Regions from separate parts of the Homo sapiens genome. Here region 1 is linked to region 2. The links come from fine-mapping of genetic effects on gene expression. Tissue or cell type: whole blood. Region 2 holds a variant in brackets; the other region holds the start of a gene. All regions are shown on one strand. Distances are from middle to middle.

Region 1 (2,754 bases), 52 kb after region 2:
TCTCTGCGCACAGACTGGGAAAGTTACCATCTACTCTTGTGGCCTCAGTTTCCTCATCTGTAAAATGGGGGGTCAACAACATGCCACTTTGCAAGGTGATGATGTAAGTGAAGAACAGGGCATCACTGGGCATTTGAGGCTACGGCACAGGCTGGTCTGAATCACCCTCTCCTCACCCAAAGCAGTGACAGCACCGGCCTCCTCAGCCTGGAACGCACGTTCTTCTGTCTGTCTCACACCCAGACCCTTACATACCATCTTCTTTAGCTTTGCAAACTACAGAGAATGGCCCTACAGCTCTTAATGTAGCTTCCTCAGCAGAAAGACTAAAATGTCTGTTGAGGGGGCAAAACAATTCACAAGGAGGTCGTCTAGCTTCTTCAGTTGTAAGTCCACTCCAAGCAAAAGGGAAGCCAGGGAAATGTGGTTAACCAGGGCAGGGAGACGTGGGGAGTGTGGGGGAAAGTCTGAGGTGGAGACACACAGGGACATGGGGGGTATGAGGTGGGGACAGGCAGGGAGATGGGGGTGCAAGGTGGAGACACGCAGGGACATGAGGGGGTGTGAGGTGGGGACAGGCAGGAAGATGGGAGGTGCAAGGCGGGGACAGGCAGGGACATAGGGGTGTGAGGTGGGGAAATGCAGGAAGATGGGGGGATGTGAGGTGGGGACTGGCAGGGATATGGGGGTGTGAGGTGGGGACAGGCAGAGACATGGGGGTGTGAGGTGGGGACAGGCAGGGACATAGGGGTATGGTGGGGATAGGCAGGGAGATGGGGGGTGCGAGGTGGGGACAGGAAGGGACATAAGGCTGTGAGGTGGAGACAGGCAGGGACATGGGGGGTGTGAGGTGGGGACAGGCAGGGAGATGGGGGGTGCGAGGTGGGGACAAGCAGGGACATGGGGAGTGCGAGGTGGGGACAGGCAGGGACGTGGGGCGTGCGAGGTGGGGACAGGCAGGGACATAAGGGTGTGAGGTGGAGACAGGCAGGGACATGGGGAGTCTGAGGTGGGGACAGGCAGGGAGATGGGGGGTGTGAGTTGGGGACAGGCAGGGAGATGGGGGGGTGCGAGGTGGGGATAAGCAGGGACATGGGGGTGCGAGGTGGGGACAGGCAGGGACATGGGGGTGGGAGGTGGGGACAGGCAGGGACATAGGGGGTGGGAGGTGGGCACATTCAGGGAGATGGGGGTGTGAGGTGGAGACAGGCAGGGACATAGGGGGAGCGAGGTGGGGACAGGCAGGGAGATGGAGGGTGCAAGGTGAAGACAGGCAGGGACATGGTGTGAGGTGGGGACAGGAAGGGACATGAGGGGTGCGAGTTGGGGATAGGCAGGGAGATGGGGGGGTGCGAGGTGGGGACACGCAGGGAGATGGGGGACGTGGGGATGGCGACAGGCTGGGAGAGGGAGAGGCCAGGCTGAGACCTCCCCGCGCGGTGCCAGCCAGTCCAGGCAGATCCAGGACTCAGCCAGGCCTGATACCCAGATAAGCCCTTCCTCCCAGAGGAGATAAGGGAGCGACGCGGCCGGCCGACAGGTGAACTAGAGCTGGCGAGTTAGTCGGCGCCGCCCCCTCCCGCGAGCCCGGCCTCGGGGGAGTACCGCCCACCCCGCCCCGCGCTCGCTCCGCCCCGCGCTCGCTCCGCCCCTTCGCGCTCCCGCCGCTCCTCCACGCTCGTGCCGCTCCCCCCCCGCGCTCCCAGTTGACGCTCTGGGCCGCCACCTCCGCGGACCCTGAGCGCAAGAGCCAAGCCGCCAGCGCTGCGATGTGGGCCACGCTGCCGCTGCTCTGCGCCGGGGCCTGGCTCCTGGGAGTCCCCGTCTGCGGTGCCGCCGAACTGTGCGTGAACTCCTTAGGTACGCAGAGGGCGCGCCGCCCGAGAGGGTGCTAGCAGGCCCTAGAGTGGACGCTGGGAGAACTTGGCCAGGGGCGCACTGGGCTCCGGAGGAACGGGGCAGAGCTTTCCCCGGTGAGAGGCCAGGAACTCTGCGTGCTGGCACGGGGAGGGGTAAACTGCATTATAGGCGGGGGTTCTCGGAGGGTGGGCGGCTTGTAGGACCAGAGGAGCAGATGGGCTGAGTGTCCAGGGTCCCACCTAGCCAGGTGGCTCTCCAGCCTAGAATACCAAAGGAGCCCGCAGCTCCTTCCGCCTTCCTCAACTGGGGACACAGAGTGTCACACAGAGGACTCTGATCTGTCCCTGCCAGAGGTGAGCAAGGACGTCCCAGCCTTCTCTAGCAGCTTCCCCCGGGACTTGGCACACAGGGGATCCCCGTAGTGTCTTGGGAGTCCCATCTGTAGAGTAGGTTGGACGGGCTGTTTGGAACAGTGAATCCCTGTGCAACGGCACCAGGGAAAGCACTCAGACCAACAGCGCTTTTAACAGCACCCCAGGGCCCATGGCGTCAGGTGGAGCCCCAGGACTCCTCTTGTTGGCCAGATTGGCTGCGACTGGTCCAGCTTCGTGCTGCCCTTGCATCCTGTCTACTGCCCGGGCTCAGGCACCTCCCCTGGCTGAAGGCAAGGAGCCTGCTCTTCCCTACTGCCTCCCTCCTTTCCTACTGTCCCTGGTCCCAGCCTCAGCCCACAGGCTCTGAACTTAAAGACCACCTGCCCCCTTCACCGAGAAAAGTAGCCAAGAAACAACCCAAGGAGCCAAGAACCTAGGGAGGGGGGGTGCCCTGAGCTCTGGAGGAACGGGACAGGGCTTTCCCCCAGCTAGAGGCTCAGGGGATGGGACAGAGATCACT
Region 2 (2,754 bases):
TATCTAAGATTCTCTAGGCCTGGAGAGCCTCTCATGCCCTGCCAGGAAGCCAACAGAAAGGAAATGAGGCAGGTCAGCCTGCCCTGGGCAGAATAGAAACTGGAGCTCCTTCCTCTGGCCTGGGCCCAGACCACTGCAGAGCAGCTCAAAAACAGTAACCAGAGCCACCCATCACACCTTCCCGGCAGGACTTTGAGACCAACGATGAGCTCAAATGCAAGGTGATCGGCTTCCTGGAAGAAGTCATGCACGACCCGGAGCTCCTGACCCAGGAGCGGAAGGCTGCAGCCAACATCATCAGGTAAAGGCAGTACCTGGTTCCTGGCTCAGAACTGCCTGCTGGGACAGGAGCCCTGCCTTCTGCCTCCATGTGGGCTGGTCAGAGGCCCGGGAGGTGAAGAGCGCCCTTGTCAAGGACAGCCCCAAGTAGGAGTGCTGGGGTAGAGGTGAGCTCTTGGGGGCAGGCTCAGGGCTGGGTAGTCTATTTGTCCTTCTTTCCTCTCTCCCCACCCTGCGCCAGACCTTGATCTCTTCAAAGCAAGAACCCAGCACACTTCTCCATGTGTGTCCACAGCTGCTAACCCCTGTCTAGCCTGTGCCATCCAATATGGTAGGCACTAGCTACATAAGGCTATTTAAATCTTTTTTTTTTTTTTTTTTGAGGCGAAGTCTCGCTCTTGTCACCCAGGCTAGAATGCAGTGATGTGATCTTGGCTCACTGTAACCTCCACCTCCCAGGTTCAAGAGATTCTCCTGCCTCAGCCTCCCCAGTAGCTGGGATTATAGGCACCTGCCACCACGCCCAGCTAATTTTTTTTGTATTTTTAGTAGAGACGGGGTTTCACCATGTTGGCCAGGCTGGTCTCAGTCTCCTGACCTCAGGCGATCTGCCCACCTCGGCCTCCCAAAGTGCTGGGATTACAGGCATGAGCCACTATGCCCGGCCTTGGCTATTTAAATCTTAATGAAAATTAAATAAAATTTAAAGTTCAGTTCCTCAGTGACATGAGCCCAGCAGCCTCAGCTTCACCCCCGACATGTGGCTAGCAGTCCCTGCATTGGACAGTACAGGGTGTAGGATGCTGCCATCACTGCAGAGATCTATTAAACAGTGCTGGCGAGGCCTGATTTGTAGGTGCTTGAGTGTCTGTTGAATTGAATTCAGTTAAGTTGTTTATCCCCAAACCCATGCTTGTCCTCTCCTGGTGGAGGTCAGGGTCAGGCAGCCCGATGTCTGAGATGCTCAGCCAGTGACTCATGTGACCTGGGCAAGTCCCCGCTCTGAGCCTCATCCATAAAAT[G/A]GGTGAACAATACCCGCTTCAAGGCTGGGATGAGATCACGGGTGTCACTTTTACAGGCTGTTCAGTGGGTGGCGGGCACCTACCGACTCAGCCTGTCTGCTCCCAGCCCAGCCCAGGTGTGAGGGCTTGGGCCCTGGCCTTTCCTCCTCACCTCTTGCCTGGCCCCAGCCTCCCCAGACTTTCCCCCAAGTCCTGCCTGTGACCAGAGTGCCCAGACATCCTCCCCAGCCAGGCCGTGGAGGCCCCATGCTGGGGCCCATTCTTCCCTCAGGCTCACAGTCCTAAAATCTCTTTCAGGCCTCCACATCTTCAGTACAGAGGCCAGAGTGTGTGCACACATGCCCACACACACACACACGCACACACACACACAGCCGCCACTCGTGGTCCTCCCAGGAGGCCTTAGGAGTGTGTGGAGCCCCCCACCGAGCATATTGATCAAAGCCACCCTCGGAGGGGAGCCTGTTCCCTGGGTGTGATGAAAGAGCAGGCTCTGGAGTTGGCAGCCCTGGTTTGGAGCGTGGGCCCACCATGCTCCAGCTGCGGGACCCCAGGTGAGGCAGTTCCCTGAGGGGCCGTTTCCTCAGCTGTAAGATATACACGACAATGCCTTCTGCCAGGCTGATCCAGAGAGCCACTCCCCGCAGCCCCGGCAGGCCTGCAGACCCCTGGCTGTCCCCACGCAGCCCAGGCCTGGCTCTCCAGTGTCCGCAGCCTCCGTTGGTACTCACCAGCTGTGGCTCTGAGCCCATCACTGTGAGCGTGCGGCACTTTGGCCTGACTTTGAGGCTCTACCCTCATTCCCCACCGTGTGTACCACTCTCCTCTGCTCTCCCAATTCCATCCTTGCAGTCCCTCCTCTGGGCCTGTGGCTGCCATGCTGCTGCCTCCCCACTCCCTGTGCTTCCTTCCTGTCATGCATCCTGTCATCCATGTGCTCGCAGGAGCGCCTGCTGAATGTCCAGTCCTGTGCTGGCACCAGAGCTATGGGGCTGAATCAGACACCGTCCCTCCCTCAAGGGCTCCCTGCCTGAGGTGGCAGAAAGGCCATTCCCACCCAGCCAGATGCAGGAAGCCCAGGGGCTGAGAGGGCCCCAGAAGGGGACCTCCCACAGCCAGGAGCGCCAGGACCATCAGGAAGAAGAGTGAAGGAGGAAGGGGAAAGGGTGCTCCTGGCAATGGGGATGACGAGGACAGAGGGGCGTAAGAGCAGAGGCCGTGTGGGGCTGTCCGAGCTGGGGAGGGGCTGCTGCAACGTGAAGTGGGGCTCACCGTGCCTTCTCGCTCCTGCCTAGGACTCTGACCCAGGAGGACCCAGGTGACAACCAGATCACGCTGGAGGAGATCACGCAGATGGTGAGCTGGGCCTGCCCTCTTGCTTTCCAAGGCTTTCCTCCCCATCCTCCTGCCCAGGACCCCTGACCCATCACAGGCATCACCCGTATTCATTTTC

The links. PIP is the estimated chance that this variant, and not a neighbour inherited with it, causes the effect.
Region 1: it holds the start of CTSH, and the variant in region 2 is fine-mapped to the expression of CTSH in whole blood (INTERVAL, PIP above 0.99).

Annotation. Positions count from the first base shown.
Region 1 is chr15:78,943,997-78,946,750 of GRCh38, reverse strand. It overlaps CTSH (cathepsin H), which reads left to right and starts at 1,705. Exons shown (of 12, transcript NM_004390.5): 1 at 1,705-1,860. The coding sequence starts at 1,770. RefSeq lists silencers at 1,503-1,852, 2,290-2,584 and enhancers at 1,435-1,973, 1,974-2,512.
Region 2 is chr15:78,995,643-78,998,396 of GRCh38, reverse strand. RASGRF1 (Ras protein specific guanine nucleotide releasing factor 1) reads left to right here. Exons shown (of 27, transcript NM_001145648.3): 19 at 189-301; 20 at 2,597-2,657. Among named protein-coding and RNA genes, the nearest start is that of CTSH, 52 kb to the right of the region's middle. RefSeq lists an enhancer at 1,175-1,948. The variant G/A (reference allele first, on the strand shown) is at 1,302.